Linked DNA regions of Homo sapiens. The protein of the gene in region 1 purifies or fractionates together with the protein of each later gene. This does not show direct contact. Each region holds a gene or a part of one and is shown on either strand. Other genes may lie near its edges.

Region 1 (5,005 bases):
TGAGACACTAGGGTGGCTTGTCCTTGATTAGGAATCACCAGCTTAAGGAACTTTATCATGGGCTGAGAGTTAGATAGATAGCTTAGAACAACATTGCAAAAGTGGGTGCTTCTACATGAGGACTTTTTTCCCCCCAAGTAGAAAAATAATTAAATCTTGTGTTTCTTTATATTGTGCTTTTTTTGGGAGAAAGCAATTCATTTAAGGATTTAAAACATGTTGGATACAAAGGTAGTTCAGAGATGTAATAATGGTCCCTCCAAGAACAAGGGAGCAAAAGCCCTATCTTTTATTGAAAATGATGGAGGTGGAGGACAATATAAAAAAGAACCTTCTGAACACTTACTTAGCTTAAAGACATGAAAGACCCAGTGAGTTTTTATTGAATAGTCTCTCTTGTGTTAAAAGTACATATTCAGGACTATACTATGTTGTATTTGGAAATATTCTGATGTGTTTAATACAAATTCGTAGTGTATTCAGAGCATTGTATGTGTCTCACCAATGGTACACATTTGGATTAAGCAGTAATAAGGCCTATAAAAGAAGAAATGAAACAATAGTTTTCAACAATAAATGCAGGAAGAAAAACTGCTGATGGACCCAACTGAGAAAATGTCCTTTTACACTATCCCTTGGTGGTCAGTCTCCCTGAATCTGGTGTGCTTATAATTGCTGGGAAGGCAGTGTAAACCTGTGGCCATTCCTATGCATGTCTGGGAGGACCACAGCCCTGGTGTGGAGCACTGACAGGTTTGACTTTCCACCAGAATTGCTTGCTCAGCTTAATCCCATAATATTCCTTTCCCTTAGATTTGTTTTCTGTCTCGGTAACTTTTTCTCTCTGCATATAAAATTTCATGACTAAAATAACTTTAAAGTACAGAGATTGTATTTTGTTGAAGGAATGCATTGGGGGGGCTTTGGGCAGACTTAGCAAAATGTTTGTATAGCAAAAATGTTTTCTTGCTAAAAACTGATTTGCAAACTTGAACGTCTAGATGTGTGTAGGAAGATTTTAAAATTTAGGCAAATTGGTCTCTAAAGAGACCAATTTTGCTTCCTTTGTCTTGGTTCCAATAAGGATTTAGTACCAAAAAGTTCAGAAGGCTGGCTTCCCAGAAGAATTGTACATACTCCTCTGAACCCCCAAAAGCAAGGGAAAAATACACTCTAAGCTTATTATTTATCTCAGGTGTAAAAACTAGCTACCTTATATTTAAATAAAGCAGCCATAATTTATTTATTTATTTTTGTTGGGGGGGCATCAGGAACCAATATCAGGGGTGAGACAAATGTATTCCGAATTTCTCAGTGAAAGAACAAAAGCCACCCAACATCAATGCTCCTCTTCAAGTCTACCAGCTCTGTTTTTCCCCAGGAACTATTGATGACTGAGGAGACTTGAAAAGAGACCTAAAGTTCCACTAAGAAGAGATGGGCAAACAATGGTTTCATTGAACAGGCCAAAGATGAGAATGTGGGGAATCTGCTGTCTTCATCTGTGAATGTTTCCTACCTGCCGCACCCTGGGACTCAGGCATAGTCACTTCCAGACATGGTTGCCTCTCCATGTGGAGTAGGTCAAAGTCTCCGTCCTCCCTGGCCAGGTGGAAGCTCCAGAGGGACATGTTTCAGCTTAGTACAAGGTGGCTGACACTACTCCTCTGCAGGAAGAGGCTGGCTGGAGGTGAGGGCGCCCCACTCAGCCTGTACCCATCAAGAAGTATTCAGAAAGGATGTCTCTGGCATCCACAAGACTACTGGGCGAACCACACTGCAAAAATGAAAACTAGCGTACACAATTTAAATTGTCTTAAACAAGCAAATAATCCAGCCATTGGTGACTCTGGAATCTAGAGTGCAGCCCTGGGGAACTCGTACCCTTGCTAACAAGGATGAACATTGCATGCTCTGATCTCCTTCTTGTCTTTGCAGCTGGTAAACTGGGAGCTTTTGAATCTCTTCTTTACAGTCATGTAACGTTCCTGAATTCCACCTCCGCACAGTTTGGTGCATTCTGACCAGGCCGTCCATGGGCGCATCCTACAACCTGAAAGCATGAGAATGCCTTGTTAGGCCCGCAGAAACGGGACGGAACAGGGATGCTGAACTCTAGTAGAACTGTGAAATGTGCTTGTCTGGGCTCCTCCTCTGCTCAAGTATGTAATGATTGGTTAGAGTCGTTATTAGGGACAGTTAGGTCGTATGTGACTGACTGCAAAAAAATGGCCACAAATGCTTCACGGTTCTTCTCATCAAAAGGCAGACTCTGTTTCTCCACCTCTTGAATCTGGGCTTGACTACATGATTTGCCATGGCCAATGGGACATGAGCAAAAACAGGCCTAAAAGCTGCTAGGACCCTTCTACTACCATGTAAGCAAGCCTGGCTAGACCACTGGAGAGACCATGTGCAGAGAAGCCCCAGCCATCTCATGAGGCCCCAGATACGCAGGTGAGGCTGGTCTGGTCCAATTGTGCCACCAGCTAGTAGTAGCCACATGAATGAGTCCAAACTAGACCCAAGAAGAACCATCCAGTGGACCCAGTTCACATCACTGATCCACAGAATCTTGCTAAGTGATTGTTTAAAAAGACTGTTTTGGGATGGCTTATGCAGCAGCCATATAAGGAACACTAAACCACTTTCTCTTATGCCTTACTCCCCAAGTACTTGGCTCCCAAATGCTAAGTATAGAGAAGTACAATTTTTGTTCTTCCTACTCAGCATAAACATGCTGCTCTCCAAGAAAACTTCCCTGACCCCAGAGATTAATTAGGTTAGATCTTTTGATTACTGCTTCCATAGCACTCTAGATTCCTCTTTTATAGAACCCACCACATTTATGGTTACACATGAGATATTTGTTAACCACACTACAGCTAAGAGTCATGGAGGAATGTACCGTACAACTATGTACCTGCCACATAGTAGGCTTTAATGAATGTTTGTTGACTGGCTGACTACCATGTAGAACAGACAGCACTTTGATATGCAAACAGCTCCCTAATCATAAGGATCCTGAACCATCAAGGAGATCCTCATGCTTCAAAAAGAATAGGCCTTTAAAAATCAGAAAACTTGATGTACATGTTAATCTTCACTTTTTTACATGGGCACCTTCAGCACTGAAGTCCCTGGCAGGCATTTTCTTTTTCTTCTGAAGTCCTGGAACTCTGAAGTTAAGCTGGAGTTTGGGGATGTATAATCTTTCTCTTGGGTTACAAATAAAACCTATCTGGCCTCTGTGTCTGTTTGCCATCCCCAAATCAGTCAACACAGGTCTGATACAGTCACCCTCTTGCTTAAAACCACCTACAGAATCAGGTCCCAAAATCCTTGGTGGGCCACTGGCCTTGTGTGGTCTGGTCCCTGCCTTCCCAGCCTGGTTTCCTGCCTGCCTTGTCCTCTGTGCTTCATCTGCATCCCATTTATCACTTGGACCTATCACTTGGACCTATCATGGTCTTTGGCATCTCTGTGCCTTTGTAATGACTATTCTTGCTGCCTGGAATGTACTTTTCTTTTTTTTTTTTTTTAATTTGAGACGGAGTTTCACTCTTGTTGCCCAGACTGGAGTGCAATGGTGTGCTCTTGGCTCACTGCAACCTCTGCCTCCCCAGTTCAAGTGATTCTCCTGCTTCAGCCTCCTGAGTAGCTGGGATTACAGGTGTGCGCCACCATGCCCGGCTAATTTTTGTACTTTTAGTAGAGATGGGGTTTCACCATATTGGCCAGGCTGGTCTCAAACTCCTGACCTCAAGTGATTGGCCTGCCTTGGCCTACCAAGGTGCTGGGATTACAGGCATGAGCCACCGTGCCCGGCCTGGAATGTACTTTTCTAAGTGGCAAACTCCTCTAGATTTTTCAAGACCCACTCTAGTTTTCCCTGCTCTGACATCTCCCTGAACTCCAGTCAATGTAAGATGATGCTCATTCCTCAGCTCCCTGAGCACTTGGTGCATTGTTCTATTAGTTATTTGTCAGCTTGGATCAATATTATTTGGGGAAATAAAACTCAAGGCTGACATGACACTGCTGATAAACTTCTGGTTAGCCTTGCAAAAAAAAATCATAAAGTCTCAGGCCACGGCTGCCTTGTCTGAGCCACACCCTTAAAATGGAAGATGATGTGTTCTGGGAGGTTCTCAGGAACATTCCCTAAATGATGAACAAGACAAGACTCCTTTGACACATCTGTATCATTTTCCCTCTTTGCAAGGAGTGAATGGTGTTGCTAAGTCATAACTGACTTTGAGCAAAGTTGGACACATTATTGGTTTTATATGTGTGTAAAGAAGGAACTGTAATTCCTAAAGATTCTTTGCTTGAAAATTTATTTTTGGCAGGTAATTAGGTTATCTAAATGTTCTTTGATAAATGACCCCCACCGCCAATCTCCTTTATAAATTATGCTTGCTCAATATTTGGGAACAAACTTGGATCTAAAGAATCAAAATGTGGCCTGAAGACTCCAGAAGATGCAGACTCTCCCCGACTTTTTTTTTTTTTTTTTTTTTAAACAGGTCCAAGACTTAGCCCAGTGCAGAACCCTGCCTGTCCTGGAGACCACCCAGGCTGACACTTGGGAGCCATACCTGGGAACTGCTCCCCTTCAGACTCTTCCTTCAGCTGCTCACTCCGCCGGCTCTCTCGGGCCTCCCTCCAGCGTAGCTTTTGGATGGATGGATTTCGAAGGCATTTTCGGATGCGGCACTTTTTTCGCTGCACAGTCTCTGGGCAGGGTGCACCTCCAAACTGAGGCTCCATTTGGATCATCCGGGTTCGAATCACGTGGCCTTTCCCACATGACTTGTTACATTCCGACCACTGGGACCACTCGGTGAGCTCACAGTCAATGGCTGGCAAGACACAGATGGGCATGAGTGTATCACATGTCTGAAACAAGATATGGTCACGCTCTCCTTTGAACATCTCAACAAGCCTATGAGGGATGCAAAGCAGGTGCTGTGTCATGCTATTTTACAGAAGAAGAAACTGA
Region 2 (4,970 bases), on another chromosome or scaffold:
ACCAGGCGCAAGGAATTGTGTTTGTCTTTGACAAACTTCATGATTAATAGATTGAAATTTCATGTCCACTGGTCCTAAGCCTTCCTCCCCAAGGTCTCACATATACAGAAATTATCCACCAGGATGACCCTCCGAAACACATAGCAGATCCTGTTACCTTTTGCCCAACACTACCATGGTTGACATATAAACCCTTTGCAATAATGTATTTGCTTCCTTTGCACAAGTTGTTCCCATTTTTAGAGTGCCCTCTGCACTTCTTTGTATAGAGTACGTAAGCTGTAGTTAAATTATCACCTCCCCTTGAGCCCTCAGTGAAATCTCCCTGCCTCCTTTTCTGCTTCATAACCTGGCAAGAGTGGCCACACCACACCCATCGAGTCCTCAGCTACTGCAGCACAGTAACAGCCTGTCCACGTCAGCCTCCTCCATTGGTCTGTGAGCTGCTCGATGGCTGGAATGTAGTCTTGTCCTTTCTCCCCCTCAGTGCCCAGACTAGGGCCTGGTCCATGGTAGATGCTCAGTAAACATTTGTTGATTGGGGCAGGGCGCGGTGGCTCACGCCTGTAATCCCAACACTTTGGGAGGCCGAGGCGAGTGGATCATGAGGTCAGGAGATCAAGACCATCCTGGCTAACACGGTGAAACCCCATCTCTACTAAAAAAATACAAAAAATTAGCCGGGTGTGGTGGCGGGCACCCGTAGTCCCAGCTACTCGGGAGGCTGGGGCAGGAGAATGGTGTGAACCCGGGAGGTGGAGCTTGCAGTGAGCCAAGATTGTGCCACTGCACTCCAGCCTGGGAGACAGCGTGAGACTCCGTCTCCAAAAAAAAAAAAAATTGTTGATTGGCCGGCGCAGTGGCTCACACCTGTAATCCCAGCACTTTGGGAGGCTGAGGTGGGTGGCTCACCTGAGGTCAAGAGTTTGAGACCCGCCTGACCAACATGGTGAAACTTCGTCTCTACTAAAAATACAAAAATTACCGAGGCGTGGTGGCGGGCACCTGTAATCCCAGCTACTCAGGAGGCTGAGGCAGGACAATCGCTTGAACCTAGGAGGTGGAGGTTGCAGTGAGCCAAGACCACGCCATTGCACTCCATCCTGGGCAACAAGAGCAAAAACTCCGTCTCAAATTTAAAAAAACACACACACACATTTGCTGATTAAATGACACATCCATTTCCTAACTGCGCTGGAGAACCTGAGCTCAAATGTGTAGGAGTGGGTAGAAAAGAGACATGAGTGAAATATTAAAATCTCCACAAAGGCATGTATGGAGGTTTATCCTGGAGTATTTAGCATCCTGAAACAAGGGGCTCCTGTGTAAGGAGAAAGGAAGTTTGAGCAAATCATAAAGGTCCCTTTTGCCTGACAAAGATTAGACAACATCGGCTGGGCGTGGTGGCTCATGCCTGTAATCCCAGCACTTTGGGAGGCCGAGGCAGGCGGATCACAAGGTCAGGAGTTTGAGACCAGCCTGACCAACATGGCGAAACCCTGTCTCTACTAAAAATACAAAAATTAGCTGGGCGTGGTGGTGCGTGCCTGTAATCCCAGCTACTCGGGAGGCTGAGGCAGGAGAATTGCTTGAACCCAGGAGGCAGAGGTTGCAGTGAGCTGAGATGGCGCCACTGCACTCCAGCCTGGGCGACAGAGTGAGACTGTCTCAAAAAAACAAACAAACAAACAAAAACAAAAAAAAAAGATTAGACAACCTCCATTGACCCAATTCTTAACGCTTTTTTTTTTTTTTTTTTTTTTTTGTGAGGCAGGGTCTCTTCAGTTAATAGGGTTGCTTAAAAAAAAAAAAAAAAAGAGAGAGACAGGGTCTCAATCTGTTTCCCAGGCCAGAGTGCTGTGGTACAATCAGGGCTCACTGCAGCCTCGACCTCCTGGGCTCAAGTGATCCTCCCACCTCAGCCCCCCACCCCAAGAAGCTGGGACTACAGGTGCACCATGTAGTCCCACCATGAACACTCCTGAGTTCATGACACATGTAAGTGGTCCATGCAGGGCCTTTTCTCCTTTGTGTTTATTTATGTATTCCCTTTTGTCCCTATTCTTCCCCTCTCTCCCCACCACACCTGGCTAATTTTTTTGTTGTTTGTTTTTGAGACAGAGTCTTACTCTGTCGCCCAGGCTGGAGTACAGTGGCACGATCTTGGCTCATTGCAACCTTTGCTTCCCAGTTTCAAGCGATTCTCCTGCCTCAGCCTCCCAAGTAGCTGGAATTACAGACACCTGCCACCACACCCGGCTAAATTTTGTATTTTTAGTAGAGACGGGGTTTCACCATGTTGGCCAGGCTGGTCTTGAACTCCTGGCCTCAAGTGATCCTCCCGCCTTGGCCTCCCAAAGTGCTGGGGTTACAAGCGTGAGCCACTGCGCCCAGCCTAATTTTTTGGAGCGACAGGGTTTCACCATGTTGGCCAGGTTGGTCTTGAAGTGCTGAGCTCAAGCCGTCTGCCAGTCTCAGCCTCCCAAAGTGCTGGAATTACGGGCGTGAACCACCGTGCCCAGCCAATTCTTATGCTTTTGCAGCCGCGACCTCCATCCACTCTCTACCCTACATGTCACTCCTCTGCTTAAAACCAAAAGATTTCCACTGTACTTAGAAAAAACTCCACATTCCTCTCTCTGACCTACAGACTCTATGTGACCAAACCCCAATTATCCGACCTCATCTCCTACCACTCTTTCCCTTTCTTACCATACTTTAGCCACACTAGCTTGCTTTCTGTTCCTTGACTATACTCTCAGTTGATTTCTGCCCTAGGGCCTTCACACTGGCTGTTCCCGCTGCCTGGACCACTCTCTTCCCGTATCTTCCTAAGCCTGCCTCCTAATTTGGGTCTCAACGCAAATGTCCCGTCCTCAGAGATGCTCTGCTAGACCACAGTATCTAATACTGACCCCTCCGCCCCACCCTCACACCAGTTACCGTGTCATATCGCCCTCCTCCATTTTTTTTTTTTTTTTACTATACAGTCCTACTTGAAGTTTCTAATCTTTCTTTTCTCATTAACCAAAACTGGAGGGAGGAAAAAGCCCATCATTTTCCCTGGACAGCAGCGCCTACTGGGAGTTTCACCCGCATTAACATGCAAACGACAGGCAAACTCCTAGTCATCCTTCCAAAGACCCTGCTCCATAGCCCTGCCGAGCCCGGTGCGCACCTGCTCACTTCCGACCCAGCGCGGTCGCACGAGGACTGGACGTTTGAGTCCGAGCAACTCCCCCCGGCTGAGGCGGCTCTTCGGGGGCTGGGCCGGGACCTATGAGTCTGGGACTCCAGCTCCCGGCCCAGGGCCGACAACTGCGAAGAGAACAAGCCCAAGGGCAGATTGTTCGGGGCTTAGTCGTGGGTAGCAGGGGTTCTGGAGAAGGCTGGGGCCCGGGAGGCCGGCCGAGCTTTCCCCGCCGCGCGCCTCAGCTCCGCCGGCCGCTGTGCCCGCCCTCGGCCCGCACCTGCCGGCTCCCAAGCCCGCCCGCTCTCACCTCGCCCCGCAGCCCCGGCCCCGGCTTCCGGCGCCACTGTCATCGGAACCGGAAGCCGCGGCGGGCGATCGGCGGCCCGGGCCCGCCCATTGGCGGTTTTGCGGAGGGGTGGCCGTCCCACGAGCCCGCGGCTTTGCGCCTCACCGCCGAGGCTCCCCGCCGCGCATGCCGAGTGGAGTCGCCCGCGGGAACCGGGCGGCGGCCAGAAAAGCCGCGCCTGTAGTCCTCTGGGGGTCGCGCCTGGTCGTTTCCAGGTTCCGAGTCCCTCCGGCCCGGCCCCGGGCCTCCCAGTCGGCGGAAGCCCCTGGCCGCGACCGCTCCTCGCCGGCGGGCGGGTTCCCCACCCGGCAGAGGCGTCGGCCTCGCACTCAACCCAGCACCCGACTCCCGGGTCAGAAGCCCCAAGCCCCAAGTGGTTACGCTTACAGCGCTGCCCGCCCTGCTCAGTGAGGGCGGCGCGGGGGCCGTGAGGGGCAGTGGCTGGGCTAGGTGCGCACCGGCCTCGGCAGGGCTGTGGAGCAGGGTCTTTGGAAGGATGACTAGGAGTTTGCCTGTCGTTTGCATGTTAATGCGGGTGAAACTCCCAGTAGGCGCTGCTGTCCAGGGAAAATGATGGGCTTTTTCCTCTCTCCAGTTTTGGTTAATGAGAAAAGAAAGATTAGAAACTTCAAGTAGGACTGTGAACAGGCTTAGGGATCCTGGACAGAGCCTAGAAATCTCAGGAGAACTGAGAGCTCTTGAAATATGAAGTGATGCTTAAAAAAAAAAAGAAAACTCCAGGCCGGGCGCGGCGGCTCACGCCTGTAATCCCAGCACTTTGGGAGGCCGAGGCGGGCGGATCAGGAGGTCAGGAGATCGAGACCATCCTGGCTAACACGGTGAAACCCCGTCTCTACTAAAAATACAAAAAATTGGCCGGGCGAGGTGGGGGGCGCCTGTAGTCCCAGCCACTCGGGAGGCTGAGGCAGGAGAATGTCGTGAACCCGGGAGGCGGAGCTCGGAGTGAGCCGAGACGGCGCCACTGCACTCCAGCCTGGGCGACAGAGCGAGACTCCGTCTCAAAAAAAAAGAATAGAAAACTCCGGGCCGGGCGGCTCACGCCTGTAATCCCAGCACTTTGGGAGGCTGAGGCGGGCGGAACATAAGGTCAGGAGTTCGAGACCAGCCTGTCCAATATGGTGAAACCCCGTCTGTACTAAAAATACAAAAATTAGCCGGGAATGGTGGCAGGCGCCTGTAGTCCCATGATCCTAGCTACTCGGGAGACTGAGGCAGGAGAATCGTTTGAACCCGAGAGGCGGAGGTTGCAGTGAGCCGAGATCGCGCCATTGCACTCCAGCCTAGGCGACAGAGCGAGACTCCGTCTCAAAAAAAAAAAAAAGAAAAGAAAAGAAAACTCCTTTCCTGTCCCAGCCTTTCTGGTCCCCTTAGCCCGAACTTAATCTGCCCACTGGGTATTCAACAGAATTC
Region 3 (4,521 bases), on another chromosome or scaffold:
TCTTCTGGGATTCTGATTACCTGAATGTTAGACTTTTCATTATAGTCTCACAGGTCCTTGAGGCTCTGTTCATTTTTGTTTCATTCTATTTTTTCTTGTTGTTCAGATTAGGTAATTTCTAAATTGTTCTATCTTCAAGTTCACTGATTCTTTCCTCTGACTACTTCATTTTGCTGTTGAGTCCATCCACTGAGTTTTAAACTTCGATTACTGGAATTTTTCTGTTCTAAAATTTCCACTTGCTTCTTCTTTGTATCTTCTACTTCTTTGCTTAGAGTTTGTATTTTCATTTGTTTCAAGTGTGTTCGTAATTGCTCAATGAAGCTTTTTTTTTATGATGGCTGCCTTAAATTCCTTGTAAGATAATTCCAATTTCTGTGTATCTCAGTGTTAGCATCTATTGATTGTCTCTTTTCACTCAAGAGAGATTTTCCTAATTCTTAATATAAGAATTTTTTTTTCTTTTTTTTTTTTTTGAGACAGAGTCTTGCTCCGTTGCCCAGGCTGGAATGCAGTGGCCCCATCTTGGCTCGCTCAAGCTATTCTCCTGCCTCAGCCTCCTGAATAGCTGTGATTACAGGCACATGCCACCACAGCCAGTTAATTTTTGTATTTTTAGTAGTGACGGGGTTTCACCATGTTGCCCGGGCTGATCTCAAACTGACTTCAAATATCTGCCTGCCTTGGCCTCCCAAAGGGCTGAGATTACAGGCATGAGCCACTGCGCTCGGCCTAAGAAGTGATTTTTAACTGTATCCTATTACATTATGGGACCCTGGATCTTATTTAAATCTGCCATGTTAGCAGGCCTCCTGTGACACCATGTGTCTTGGTCCATTTAGGCTGTTATCTAACAAAATACCGTAATCTGGGTAGCTTATAAACAACAAAAAAGTTACTTCTCATAGTTCCGGAGGCTGGCAAGTCCAAGATCAAGGAACTGGCAGATTCAGTGGCTGGTGAGGGCTTATTTCCTGGTTCACTGATGGCACTTTCTTGCTGTGTCCTCCTCACATGGTGAAAGGGGTGAAACAGCTCCCTTGTGCCTGTTTTATAATGGCACTAATCACCTTCTAAAAGGCCCTACCTACCTCCTAATACAATCACCTTGGGGATTTGGGTTTCAACATATAAATTTGGTGGGGGACCACAAAAACATTCAAACTATGCCAACGCTATGCTAATGGGGAAAGAAGGGTGCTGCCTCAGTACTTTCAGACGGAAATGGAAGTCCAAGGTGCCCACTTGCCCTCCACTGACATCTGGGGGTCAGCAGAAGGTGTACTTCCTTATTGCTGGGTGAAGGCGAAAGTTCAGGCTCTCTACAGGTCCCTGCTGACACATGCTGGCTGGGAGAAACAGAGGTGCGTCACCACTGCTCCCTACATGGCCTGCACCGACAGCATGGGGTAGGGCAGTAGAGAAAGGCTTATTACATCTGGGTGGTGGTTAGAGTCTCAACCTCCCTGTTGACCTTCTCTGACACCATCCTGATAGAGAGGGGACAGGATGTCTCATTACCACTGAGTGAGAGTTGAAGTCCAAGTTTCCCAAGTGGCCTTCACAGATGTCTCTGGGAGATGGTGAAAGTTCTGGTTCCCCACTAGACTTCTCTGACATAGCTCTGGCAGGAAGCAAGGCATGCCTAGTGACAGCTAGGTGAGGGTAGGAATCTAGGCTTCCCACTGAACTTTACTGATGGAGGTGGGAGTGGAGCTGTGGTTTTGCTTCTGTAGCATTTCGCTAGAATAAGGCAGTTAATGTTTGAAAGTTTTCTGTCTTGTTAGGCTTCCTCTCTTCTGGTCCTTTTGCTAGAGGGAGGAGGCTTTTTGTTTGAGTCCATTGTTATTCCCAGGTTTCTGACTTCTCCAGCACCCAGTCAAGGATATATGGGGCAAAAAGAAAACCCAAGAAACTCGCTGTCAAATTTTCCCTCTGGTCGCAAGGTCCCTAGGCAGTCTGCTTCTCTCTACCTCTCAAATTCCTCTTATGTTTGTTATATACATATACTGTCTAAGGTTTTTCAATGTACTTTGGGGAGGAACGGGGAGAAATGTCTCTACTCCCTCTTGTCTGGAACCATGTAGGGTACTTAACATGATCTCTTAAGCATTTATCATGAATGCGTCTGTTTCCACAATAGATTAAGAAAACTTTATTAACCTCCATATTTTAGCCTTTAATTAAGCAAAAGTATACACTTTATAATATGCTTGCTGTTCTGTTTTACTCTGTTCACATTTCTGACTGGAAACTTGAGGTTTTGCTGGTAAGAGTTTCATCATTCATGAAAAGATGACAAAATGTACTGTAGAAGGTACTGCTTCTTGTCACCACACTGAGCTCTGAATTTGTATTACCTTTTTCTATACCAATTATTCTGACTCTTTCCCATTTGACATGGTTAGAGAGAAGTGATTCTAATTTATGAAGAAACTAAGTTAAATCACTTGCCTAAGCTGAAAGAGCCAGTTATTTTCAGACCTGACAGCAGCAATTTAGTTTTATAACTCAGGATCCTTTCATTGTAATAATGTTCCTCCTTAAAGTCTGATACTTAAAACTACTTCTAATACCAACACAGTTTCAAATGTAAAAGTTGAACAAAGTTTAGAACTAAATAAAAAATCAATTAGCTATATTATTTTAAAATGTTGTGTATGTGAGCCAAAACAGTACCTTTGCTTTCTAATTTTAAAAGAGATACATGTTCAGATGGGCACAGTGGCTCACACCTATAATCCCAGCACTTTGGGAGGCCAAGGCAGGTGGATCCCTTGAGGTCAGGAGTTCAAGACCAGCCTGGGCAATATGGCAAAACCCTGTCTCTACTAAAAATACAAATATTAGCCGGGTGTGGTGGCATGCACCTGTATTCCCAGCTACTTGGGAGGCTGAGGCAGGAGAATTGCTTAAACTCAGGAGGTGGAGGTTGTAGTGAGCCAAGATCGCGCCACTGCACTCCAGCCTGGGAGACAGAGTGAGACTCCATCTCAAAGAAAAAAAAAAAAAAAAAGAGACACATGTTCATTATCAGAAAAAATCAAAAGATCTAAAGAACAAAAAGAATATGCAGAACATCAATCGTGTAGCTGACTGTTGATACTTTACTGTGTATTTTTCCAGAACCTTTACTCATTTTCTCTATGTTTCGCTTTTTCAAAAAAATATGGGGGAACTAATGGTTATATAATATTTGATTGCATAGATATGCCATCATTTATTTAAGTATACCCTATTGCTATTGGCTCAAGTCATTTCCAGTTTTTTATTTCTTTTTATCTTTTCCGCCCAGCTTTTTCTTATTACAATACAACTAAAATGAACATGGCAGATTATTTACTTAGGACAAACTTATAGGGGTAGAAATGTTGGTGAAAAGGCAAATACATTTTTAGGCTTTTGATACCTACTGTGAAACTACACTAAAGAAAGATTATAGGAGTGTATAGGTTACCAGCAGTGTAGGAGTGGTCACTGGCACACCTGCAGAAACACTAAACATTTCATATACATATATAAACTTAGTCCTATCTACTTGCTCTTGCTGCATTCCACCTTCCTATTCTGCCCCCACCCCTGACATCCCACCCAAATTCTACCCTCACTTGTGATCTAGGTGGTCCAGTTCTAGCTTCTTACTTCTGTAAACACTTCTCTGCCTAAAAATAACTTTTCTTCTTTTAGATATATCAGTATTGCTAATTAGCAGCTATCATTTGTCTGCTTGTTCTTGTTGTCTGTGATCTTTGTTTCCCAAGCTAAAAGGCAAACTGTGGCTATGACAATGAATTACACATATTGGCATTTTCTGTAGTGCCCATTCTATTACAGTGTCTCAGTAGACAGGCAATGTGTATTTCTTGGTAGACTTTTATGTTTCTTAATTCAGACTCAGTCAGTTATGGAAGCTTACTGGATCTCCTTTGATATGGAATAAATGAGCACAAATCCTTGGGCTATGCTGCTGCCTTAGATATGGAGAAAGTATTTTATTATACTTGGGAAATATTTAAGTTACTACTACTTTAGAATACTAACTATAAGCCATTTTAAAACTGTACGCAATACATAAAATCATATTTTTGCACATGAAAAAATGTGATTAAATGACAGCAGCAGACATTAGGAGACAGATACTGGTTTCTTTATTTCACATGTGACTTTCAGCCAGTCAACAGGGATTCACATCCCATATTAGTTAAATGTGACTATGAAAATTTTATAAAGTACTACAAAAAAGCTGTTATATACCTATTGATTTCTTTTTTAAAAGTGGCAGTACACAGTAAGACATTTTAAAAGAGCTATCTTATATTTTAAAATTTAAGTCATCTCTATAAATAACAATTGACCTAGGCATTTATGCCCCAAAATAAAATCCATTCCATTTTTTAACTTAAAATAAGCGAATAAAAGTTAAGATGGTCAAACTAGGCTTCATAAATTACTCAGCTTCAATTGGCCACAGCAAATTTACAGCAGATCTAAGAAACAGCTTCAATTTTATCCATAAGTACT
Region 4 (4,521 bases), on another chromosome or scaffold:
CTCCCCAGAGGCAACCACTGTTTCAGCTTTTTCCATATTCTTCTAGAGATCTGCTGAATTATTTTTAATAACCAAAACATGACAAATCTTAGTGGCTGTTCATGTTCTGGCCTAAAGTACTATTGATTCTAATTTCCCGTTTTATCTTGCTACCTTACAACTGATTTTCTTTTGTTTACACCAGAGAGAATAATATGACAGTTCGTGGGAGATTAGTTTTAAAATAAGCTAGTTCTGGTTTTCCTATGCTCATGGGGACAAAAAGTTTGTCTGATGGTTTTATTTTAGTTTTCTGGCTGTTTGAGATTACATGATTTAAGAATTATTTTAGAGAAAAATCACTGTAATATTTATGTCAATATTCTTTCACTCCAGCTTCAATACCAAAGGCTTTCACTCAAAAAGAACTTCTCTCTCCATTCTTTCAAGGTGATATGAACAGCCAGTCAAATAAATTACCTGATGGAGAATCTAGCCTTCAAATACTGCTCCTTCACGTCAAGAGATTGAAAATACCCTTCCACTTGTGTTTGGGTTTTCCTTAAAAGAAGCTAAGTTTTCGCTTTTTTTTTTTGAGACGGAGTCTCAGAAAAAGTCCAGTCTCCACAGGCTGGAGTGCAGTGATGCAATCTCGGCTCACTGCAAGCTCCGCCTCCCGGATTCACGCCATTTTCCTGCCTCAGTCTCCCGAGTAGCTGGGACTACAGGCGCCCACCACTATGCCCGGCTAATTTTTTTTTTTTTTTGGTATTTTTAGTAGAGACTGGGTTTCTCCGTGTTGGCCAGGATGGTCTCGATCTCCTAACCTCATGATCCGCCCGCCTCAGCCTCCCAAAGTGCTGGGATTACAGGCGTGAGCCACCACGCCCAGCCAAATTTTTGCATTGTAATTTACTTGTCAAGTAATTTACTTTTCTGTTGTTAGGTTAGTATTTCTTTCTTACTCTACTTAGAACAGGGAATGCCTATGTACTACTCATCTTTAATTCTCTTTAAGACCTTGTATAGTATCTCATATTTAGGGGCAGCTACCATACAAAGACTAAAAACATGCCCACTTACTATGTGACTTGGGGCAATTTACTTAACCTTGGTTTCCTCATCTATAAAATTGACATAATAATAATAAAACCATAAGACTGTTGTAAGGAGTACATGAGATAAGGCAAGGAAAAATCTTAGATAAAGGGTACACAGAAAACACTCAATAATGTCTACTATTGTTAGTAAATGTGTTGAAATTTAATACTAATTCTTTTTTTTCTCTCTTTTTTGAGACAAGTCTCTGTCACCCAGGGTAGAGTGCAGTGGCATGATCACAGCCCACTACAGCCTCAAACTCCTTGGCCCAAGCAATCCTCCCACTTCAGCCTCCCAAGTAGCTGGGAGCAGTGGCTGTAGTGGCTACAGGTAGGTGCCACCATATCTGGCTAATTAAAAAACCTTTTTTTAGAGACAGGGTCTTGTTACATTACCCAGGCTGGTCTGGAACTCCTGGCCTCAAGTGGTCCTCTCCTGCCTCAGTGTCCCAAGTAGCTGAATACTACTTTTTTAAAAGCAATGTATCTTGCAAATTTAGGAACATATCTAGGACTGAAAGTTAGTAGAGTTGGGGGAAAAAAATGTTTGAGAGTCTTACCCAGGGTTTGAAGCCCATCTCTGTACCGTTTCTTCATCATCACCATCACACAAATCAGCGAAAGTGGCTTCTAAATCCTCTAATTGATGAATTCGAGTATCAACAATATCTACCAAATCTTCCTTTAAATACATTGAAAAGCTGAGATTATATAGTTATTCTTTCAAAAAACAAGCAACATCCCATTACAAAAAAAACTTGGCTCTATTAGTTAAAACATAATTTTCAAGTACTAACCATGGGCTTCGCCAATACACACACACACACACACACACACACACACACACACACACACACTTTGAGCAGTCTTTGAGATCACTGTGGTAATTTGCAAGATATTATTAGTTATATGATAAATGAATAAAACCCCAAAGAAACAAATGGAGGATACCTCTGTTAGGTTGGTGCCAGGTTTCTTAAATTGGTACAGCTCTTGTAAGATTTTGTACTCTTCCTGGAAAACAAAACAAAAAATCCACATACCAGAAAAAAAAAAGTTAAAATTTTTTAATGATATGCTTTAAGGAAGAGACAACCTTCCTTGTGATACAAGAACATCTTAGATAATTATTTAAAGGTATGTATGGGAGAATCAGGCAAAATGTATACTTTAGATTTTTATTGTAATAATTTTATTGTAAATATTGTAAAATTTTGTTTTATTGTAAATATCACTTCTTCAAGGCAACTCTATCCAGCTGGGCATGGTACTACTATGTAAAAATTACCTAAGGAAGCATACTTGGTGGCTAATGGGTCACGAGATGAAAATATTTTAAATAATATTCTGCTATATAAATGCCATGTCCTAGGATCTAAACAGACTTAGCTGTTTACAGGAAATATACATATCTTTAATAACAACAACAAAGAACTCCCTATGTTCACTTTGCAGCCATTTCTCTAACAACAGAAGAGATCTCTGAAGTACAAAGGCAATACTGGAGGTAGAATGTCAAAGACATAGAACCTCGGTCAGGAGGCACCACACAAGGGGAGAAAGAGGCTTGCTATACAAACTTTGTAGGATAATGTTTCCCCTTGTTTAGCACAGCTACATGGATCCATTATATAGGTGGGTACACCTGGCCCCAGTAATCCTATTTAGGAGTATTCTCAGGAAAAGGTTATACCCAAGGGCTAAAATTCATTAAGCACAATGTTGTGGCATATCTTCAGTGCTTTATTCATTATAACAATCCTGAGTTGGGTATGATTATTATTCTGATTTGATACTTGAAGAAACTATGGGTCGGAAAGGTTAAGTAATTTTCCTAAGATCATATAGCTAATAAGCAGTAGAGTTAACAACAGAACTTAACTCCCCTAACTTTTGAACATGCTTCTTTTTTATGAGATGGGGTCTCGCTGTCACCCAGGCTGGAGTGCAGGGGTGCGATCACGACTCACTGCAGCCTTGACCTCCCAGGCTCAAGTGATCCTCCCATCTCAGCCTCCTGAGTAGCTGGACCACAGGCACGTGCCACTATGCCTGGCTAAATTAAAAAAAAAATTTTTTTTTAATAGAGATGGGGTCTTGCTACGTTGCCTACGCTGTTCTCAAACTCCTTGGCTCAAGTGGTCCTCCTGCTTTGGCCTCCCAAAGTGCTGGGATTATACGCATGAGCCACCATGCCCAGCCTGAACATGCTCTTAAGAAAAAAAAAAAGATGAACATCTGTCTTTCCTAATGATATTTAAAAAATTGCTACTAAATAATAAAGTTTAATATATGCTTTTTAAAAAGTCCATTGTACCAAAGGGTATTTAGGCTATACAAATCCTTGTGTTCCCAGGTTTCCTAATAGCACTCTAAAAGGAATAACTGCCACTGAATTCCTTATGTAACCTTCTAGAAACTTTCATTACAAATATTTATTACAAATATTTAGGTGAGTAATCAGGCACATCACTGTTTAAGGAATAATCTGTTACACAGGATTTATATATAGAATATCGCTGGAAAGATACACAAGAAACTGATCACAGTATTTGTTTCTGAAGCAAAGAACTGAGGGAATGGGGATAAGAGAGTGCTGTTTTTCAATGTACACTTGTCCCTTGGTATCCGTGGGGGATTGGTTCTGGGACCTCCTGTGGATACCAAAATCTGTGGATGCTCAAGTCCCTGACATAAAATAGTGTAGTATTTGCATATAACATATGCATACCCTCTCATATACTTTAAGTCATCTCTAAATTACTTGTGGTATCTAATACAGTGTAAATCCTATGTAAATAGTTGTTATACTGTATTGTTTTTTATTTGTATTATTTTTTACTCTTGTATTGTTATTTCTAGTTGTTTTTTATTTTTTCTGAATATTTCCTATCTGTGGCTGGTTAAATCCAGGAATACAGAACCCACGGATACAGAGGGCTGACTGTATATACCTGTACTGTATGACTTAATTTTTATCCATCACCCATGTATACATTACCCCAATTAATAAATGCAAAATAATGAATACTATCTAGAGCAGGAGTTGGCAATCCACAGCCTATAGCCTGTTTGTGTATGGCCCTCAAGTTAAGAATGGTATATACAACTTTAAAAGGTTTAGAAAACAACAGAAAAGGGTATTAGTAGAGAATGTGAACCCCAAAGCCTAAAATAATTGCTAGCTGGCTGTTTAAAGAGTTTGCTGGTTCCTCATCTAGAGAAAAGCCATACAATTCTCAAGATCTATGTGTTAAAAACACAATTATTTACCTGAGTGAACATTTCTTTGAAGGGATTCTTGACTGAAAAAAAATCCAAGTCAATATCTAAAACAAATGCCTTCCCTTTCTTCAAAATTTCCAGAATTTCCCCAGTGCTGGCAGCAGTCTGGCATTCCTGATTTTCAGAAGAACATGAACATGATGGTTCTAGGCAAGTC

What was found. The genes of interacting proteins can lie anywhere in the genome.
Region 2: the proteins of SPON1 (region 1) and RMND5B purify together in Homo sapiens (affinity purification with mass spectrometry; one large-scale study listed by BioGRID and IntAct). This does not show direct contact.
Region 3: the proteins of SPON1 (region 1) and DPY19L3 purify together in Homo sapiens (affinity purification with mass spectrometry; one large-scale study listed by BioGRID and IntAct). This does not show direct contact.
Region 4: the proteins of SPON1 (region 1) and C5orf22 purify together in Homo sapiens (affinity purification with mass spectrometry; one large-scale study listed by BioGRID and IntAct). This does not show direct contact.

The regions. Positions count from the first base shown.
Region 1 is NC_000011.10:14,262,572-14,267,576, reverse strand, and holds part of SPON1 (spondin-1 precursor), read right to left. Parts: intron 4,866-5,005; coding exon 4,602-4,865; intron 2,054-4,601; coding exon 1,890-2,053; 3' UTR 1-1,889. UniProt on the Homo sapiens protein: Cell adhesion protein that promotes the attachment of spinal cord and sensory neuron cells and the outgrowth of neurites in vitro. May contribute to the growth and guidance of axons in both the spinal cord and the PNS.
Region 2 is NC_000005.10:178,129,585-178,134,554, reverse strand, and holds the start of RMND5B (E3 ubiquitin-protein transferase RMND5B), read right to left. Parts: upstream 3,542-4,970; 5' UTR 3,501-3,541; exon of another isoform or gene 3,319-3,500; 5' UTR 3,179-3,318; intron 1-3,178. UniProt on the Homo sapiens protein: Core component of the CTLH E3 ubiquitin-protein ligase complex that selectively accepts ubiquitin from UBE2H and mediates ubiquitination and subsequent proteasomal degradation of the transcription factor HBP1.
Region 3 is NC_000019.10:32,439,990-32,444,510, reverse strand, and holds part of DPY19L3 (protein C-mannosyl-transferase DPY19L3), read right to left. Parts: intron 1-4,521. UniProt on the Homo sapiens protein: C-mannosyltransferase that mediates C-mannosylation of tryptophan residues on target proteins.
Region 4 is NC_000005.10:31,538,521-31,543,041, reverse strand, and holds part of C5orf22 (UPF0489 protein C5orf22), read right to left. Parts: coding exon 4,353-4,521; intron 2,094-4,352; coding exon 2,031-2,093; intron 1,762-2,030; coding exon 1,640-1,761; intron 1-1,639.